Linked DNA regions of Homo sapiens: region 2 is linked to region 1. A link means that fine-mapping ties the variant in region 1 to the expression of a gene that starts in the linked region. Tissue or cell type: atrial appendage. Region 1 holds a variant in brackets; the other region holds the start of a gene. All regions are shown on one strand. Distances are between the middles of the regions.

Region 1 (2,682 bases):
GGTTTCACAGTGTTAGCCAGGATGGTCTCGATCTCCTGACCTTGTGATCCGCTGGCCTTGGCCTCCCAAAGTGCTGGGATTATAGGCATGAGTCACCGTGCCCAGCCAACACCTGTTGTATATTTCATTTGTTCATTTTTCTGTTCCTCCTTCCTAAAATATAAACTTCATAACAGCAGGGATCTATATCTATTTTGGTCACTTCTACGTCCCCTGTGTCTAGAACAGTGTTTGGTACATCCCCAAAATTAGGTGTTCAACATCCATTAGGTGCTCAACTAATATTTGTTGAATGAATAAATGAATAGACGAATGAAGTAGGTGAGTCTCAGAAAAGTTAAACAAAGCAACTTATCCAATATTATCCAGCCATCAAGTGGCACAGATGGAATTCAAACCTAGAATTGGGACAGGCTTGGAGTCAATCCATTTAACCACTAAACCATAATTGTCTCATTCATGCAACAAATATTCACTGAGATCCTAATCCCTGAAGGACACTGTTCTAGGCACTGGGGATATAGCGGGGATGAAAACAGACAAAATCCTTGCCCTTGTGGTGCTTGCTTCTTAGTATTGTCCCATATGAAAAGAGATGTAGTTTTGTAAGATTGGGATGCAAGGCCCATGTGCCAACATACCTGGTTATGTATCAGTGGCAGACATAACTAATGGATCAAGACCCTTAATCCTGCCCAGCCCAGATTCTGCTCATGATCTTTCTCAACTCAGCACTCCATGCTGACACTCAGCTGACTGGAGTTGGCACCAAAATAACCCCTGTTGGTCATGTGTGAATAGGTGTTGTCTCCTCAATAAGGGCATGAATCCCAACCCTGCACTGTGTGGCCAGAACCCCTGGGACCACAAGTGGAAGTTCCATAGCTGGCACAGGACTTGGGGTTCCTTCCCACTGGCCCCAGACAGTGTTTCCCTCGTTCCTTTCCCCAGCCCCTCTGACCAGTCCTGGGGGCATGAAGAGCACAGAGCTTAGCCAAGGTACAAACTCAAAAGCCTTGAAGGCAGCCAGGTTATGCTGATCCTGGGAGGGCAGGCTGGTTAAGGAACGGGCATAGGCTCTGGAATGGATAGTTATGGGTTCAAATCATGGGTTCTCGACTCATTCACATGACTTTGGGCAAGTCACTGCACCATTCTGAACCTTAGCTTCCTCATGTGTTAAATACGGGGATTATGCATTTACTTCAAAGGGTTGACCTGAATATTAGATGAAATAATCTATATAAGGGGCCTGCCTTAGTGTTTGGAGAGCAACAGGTACTCAACAAATGTTGGATGAGGGAACAAATGAGTACCTGAGTGACTGCATGAATGAGTGTTCTGGCAGGAAAGGTAGACACAAAAGCATACCTGGTGGGTTGTATTTTCCAAAGATAACCTGAGAAGACGTTTGAGACCATTTCAACCAGTAGAGTATGTCAGAGTGATAATTTTTTTTTTTTTTTTTTGAGAAGGAGTCTCACTCTGTTGCCCAGGCTGGAGCGCAGTGGCGTGATCTGGGCTCACTGCAAGCTCCGCCTCCC[G/A]GGTTCACGCCATTCTCCTGCCTCAGCCTCCCGAGTAGCTGGGACTACAGACGCGCGCCACCCACGCCCGGCTAAGTTTTTTGTATTTTCAGTAGAGACGGGGTTTCACCGTGTTAGCCAGGATGGTCTTGATCTCCTGACCTCGTGATCTGCCCGCCTCGGCCTCCCAGAGTGCTGGGATTACAGGCGTGAGCCACTGCGCCTGGCCCGCTCTGAGAGTAAATGAAGGCAGAGCTATGCCCATCCAGCTCCGTTCACCATTCACCACCAGCAACCACATGAGAGACCCCAAGTCAGACCACACAGGCAATCCCTTTCTGAATTCCTGACCCTCTGAAACCTTGAAAGATGATGAAATGATTCTTGTTGCTTTAAGCCACTAAATTTTGGGGCAATTACTCTTCAATAGCAGAATTTGTACAGTGTGTTTGGGAACACAGAAGAGGGATCAATCAAAAGAAATTGAACATTCAGCTGGGCACAGTGGCTCACACCTGTAATCCCAACAGGGAGGCCAGGCAGGTGGATCACGTGAGGTCAGGAGATTGAGACCAGCCTGGCCAACATGGCGAAACCATGTCTCTACTAAAAATACAAAAATTAGCTGGGCGTGGGGTGGCGTGCACCTGTAATCCCAGCTACTCAGGAAGCTGAGGCTGGAGAATCGCTTGAACTCGAAAGACAGAGGTTGCAGTGAGCCGAGATCACGCCACTGCACACCAACCTAGGTGACACAGTGAGACTCCATCTCAAAAAAAAAAAAAAAAAGGTGTTGAACATTCAATGTAAAGAAAGAAATTACACTAATACATTGAGTAGGATACCCAATAAATTGAGTTGCTGTTGAAAATAATCCTTAGACGAAGGCTTTCACATATAGCAGCTCAAAGAAAGTCTCCATTCCATGTTATCTTAGGAAACCTCTCTGGAGCTCCACTCCTCCCACTTCCTGCTCTTCCTCCCCAGCCCCTGGGTCAGGTCCTGGACTCCCATAGTTTTCAGGCTGCTAAACAACAGAACGAGCACTGGACTTGGAGCCAGAAGTCTTGGGCTCAAGCCCTGCCCTTACTGCTTACTAGCTGAATAATTCTGGGCAAATCAGTTGGACCAGTTACACCTCAGCCTTCTCATTTAGGAA
Region 2 (2,682 bases), 100 kb before region 1:
CCACTGTTGCCTCTTTACCACCGTTCGTTCGGTCCACAGTCTTCTCCTGGTTAAACATCCCGTTCCTCCTCTGTAAAGCTCTGCTCAGAGAGGGTCCCCCTAACCACACAAGTACTGTGCCACAGTGTCCTGAGGTATGGTGTACCTGCATCAACACCAACAGCGAATACTGACTAAACCCAGTGTTAAACTACAGGCCAGGGACTATTATTATCCCAACTCCGTAGGTGAAGAAACTAAGCCTCAGAAAGGTTACCCAAAAATCACAATTAGAAAGTGACAGAGCTTGGACTTGAACCCATATCTAGGCCTAATACTAATACTGGTTCCTATGCTTGGAACCCCATGGAGGGCCATCTCATTACACCAAATATTTCTTAAAAGCTTATTAATATCTACTATTGCGTTTAACTTTCCAAGTTGGAATTGCCATCTTCATTTTACACATGAGCAGGTGGTGCAGGTGAATGGCCAAGTAAAGATATTAACGTGGCTTTCTGAGAGGGACCCAGTGCCAGGAGTGTATTTTTCCCTCTATACAGTTATAACTCCTTCTCAACTCCCTAAGGTAAAAATACCACCACCGACTGATCACTTATTAGGAGCCAGAACACTGCCAGATGTGTTACTTACATTTTCTCTAATTTCCAAAACAACCCCAAGGGAATGTTGTCCGTTTTACAGACGAAAGAGCTGAGGTTTAGAGAAAGTAAATAACTATGTCATTAAGTCTAGAAAGTGGCAGAACTATTGGGACACCCTAGCTTCAGCTTTTATTTTTTCTGCTCCATACAGCTACGTCTCCCACACTTTTTCTGCGCTGAGAATGGGAGAGGGGAAAACATCAGGATCGAACAGGATCAAAGTGCAATTCCAAGGGAATCACAGCTTGGCTCCAATCAACGCAAGTCCCGCTCGGTAGGCTGGGATAGTTCCCCAAGCATCTCTAAAAGCAACAACAGTTGGAAATGGAGACGAAGGAAATGGAAGCGTGTTCTTGATTTTCACTAATGAAGAGTTGGAGAGGTCTGAAGTTCAATTAGAGGGAGAAAGGGGCCAGGGTCATCGGAAAGGGCCCTGGGCGGGGAATCAGGGCACCTAGGATGGCGTCCCAGGTCTCCATGACCCAGACAAGTCACTCCACCTCTCCGGACCTCAGTTTTCCCATCCCCTTCAAAGGATTTGAGGGGAAAAGGGAGGGTCCAGGACTCCAACGCCCTCCCGACTCTGGCCTGAGAGCTGTCCGGCCTCGCCTCTAAGAGAGCAGTCACCACGGGCCAAGCCCCCAACCCTGACAGTCAGAGTGCCTGCAGGGCCGCCGCCTCGGCGGCTCGGGGCACTTACAGCCCGGAGGGACGCCAAGCCCACCAGTCGCCGCGGAAGCGCCTTCCTCATTGCTGCCATCTTGGCCCAGAATCCCCCGCGGCAGTCCAGCTGGGCCCCGCGTGACCGATGGCTCGTCTGGTGGGCGCGGCCCCGCCCCCGCCCCTCCGCCGTGACTTCCGAAGCTGGCTCCACCCCCAGCCTCTCTCCGTTTTGATTCCGAGCGCCTCTTCCATGCCAGGCCAAGTGAGACGCTAGGAATATAAAGATGAACAGAATCAGCCTGGACACCATGTAATCCTAGCACTTTGGGAGACCGAGGCGGGTAGATCACCTGAGGTCAGGAATTCGAGACCAGCCTGGCTAACATGGCGAAACCCCCGTCTCTCCAAAAAATCCAAAAAAAAAAAAAAAAAAAAAAAAAAAAAAAAAAAGCCGGGCGTGGTGGTGGGCGCCTGTAATCCCAGCTACTTGGGAAGCTGAGGCAGGAGAATTGTTTGAACCCGGGAGGCGAGGTTGCAGCGAGCGGAGATCGTGCCACTGCACTCCAGCCTGGGCGACACAGTGAGAGCCTGTCCAAAACAAAAAACCCAAAACCAAACAAACAAAAACATGAAAAGAAATTAACCAAATTCTGTGGCTTCTTGTGTTTAGAGTGTGGGAGGTGTGAGGAGACACATATTAATAGTTACACAAACAGTTGTGTCATTTCTAACTTGCACTATAAGAAGCAACGATTTGCTACTCACTGTTCCGAGTTCTTAGCACGGATTAACTCACGCATCACGATCTTCAGGATTCAAACACAGGCAGGCAGCTCCAGAGAGGGGGCATCCTTAGATTTCATACCTTAAAAAAATGATTAAGATTTATCTAGGTGTACTTTCTGAAGGGCTGAAAAAAAAAAAAATCTATCCAGGTGAAGAGGATACAAGAAAAACTTTCCAGACGGTGTAGCATTCGCAATGGCCCTGAGGCAAAGAAAATGCTGAGAACACTGTTTTTCTCTCTTTTGTTTTGTTGGTTTGTTTTGTTTGTTTGAGATGGAGTCTCACTCTGTCACCCAGGTTGGAGTGCAGTGGCGCGATTTCGGCTCACTGCAACCTCCGCCTCCCGAGTTCAAGAGAGTCTCGTGCCTCAGTCTCCCGAGTAGCTGGGATTACAGGTGTGCACCACCACGCCTGGCTAATTTTAGTGTTTTTAGTAGAAACGAGGTTTCACCGTGTTGGCCAGGCTGGTCTCAAATTCCTGACCTCAGGTGATCCGCCCGCCTTGGCCTCCCAAAATGCTGGGATTACAGGCGAGAGCCACCGCCCCCGGCCAGAGCACTGTTTTCAAACTGTATGTTGTACCCCACTA

The links. PIP is the estimated chance that this variant, and not a neighbour inherited with it, causes the effect.
Region 2: it holds the start of HMGCL, and the variant in region 1 is fine-mapped to the expression of HMGCL in atrial appendage (GTEx, PIP above 0.99).

The regions. Positions count from the first base shown.
Region 1 is chr1:23,926,553-23,929,234 of GRCh38, forward strand. It overlaps MIR378F (microRNA 378f), which reads left to right and starts at 2,518; the gene lies at 2,518-2,595. The variant G/A (reference allele first, on the strand shown) is at 1,545.
Region 2 is chr1:23,824,012-23,826,693 of GRCh38, forward strand. HMGCL (3-hydroxy-3-methylglutaryl-CoA lyase) reads right to left here and starts at 1,418. Exons shown (of 9, transcript NM_000191.3): 1 at 1,345-1,418. The coding sequence starts at 1,404. LOC105376861 (a long non-coding RNA gene) reads right to left here. Exons shown (of 3, transcript XR_947068.2): 2 at 2,073-2,172; 3 at 1,529-1,577. RefSeq lists an enhancer at 1,419-2,287.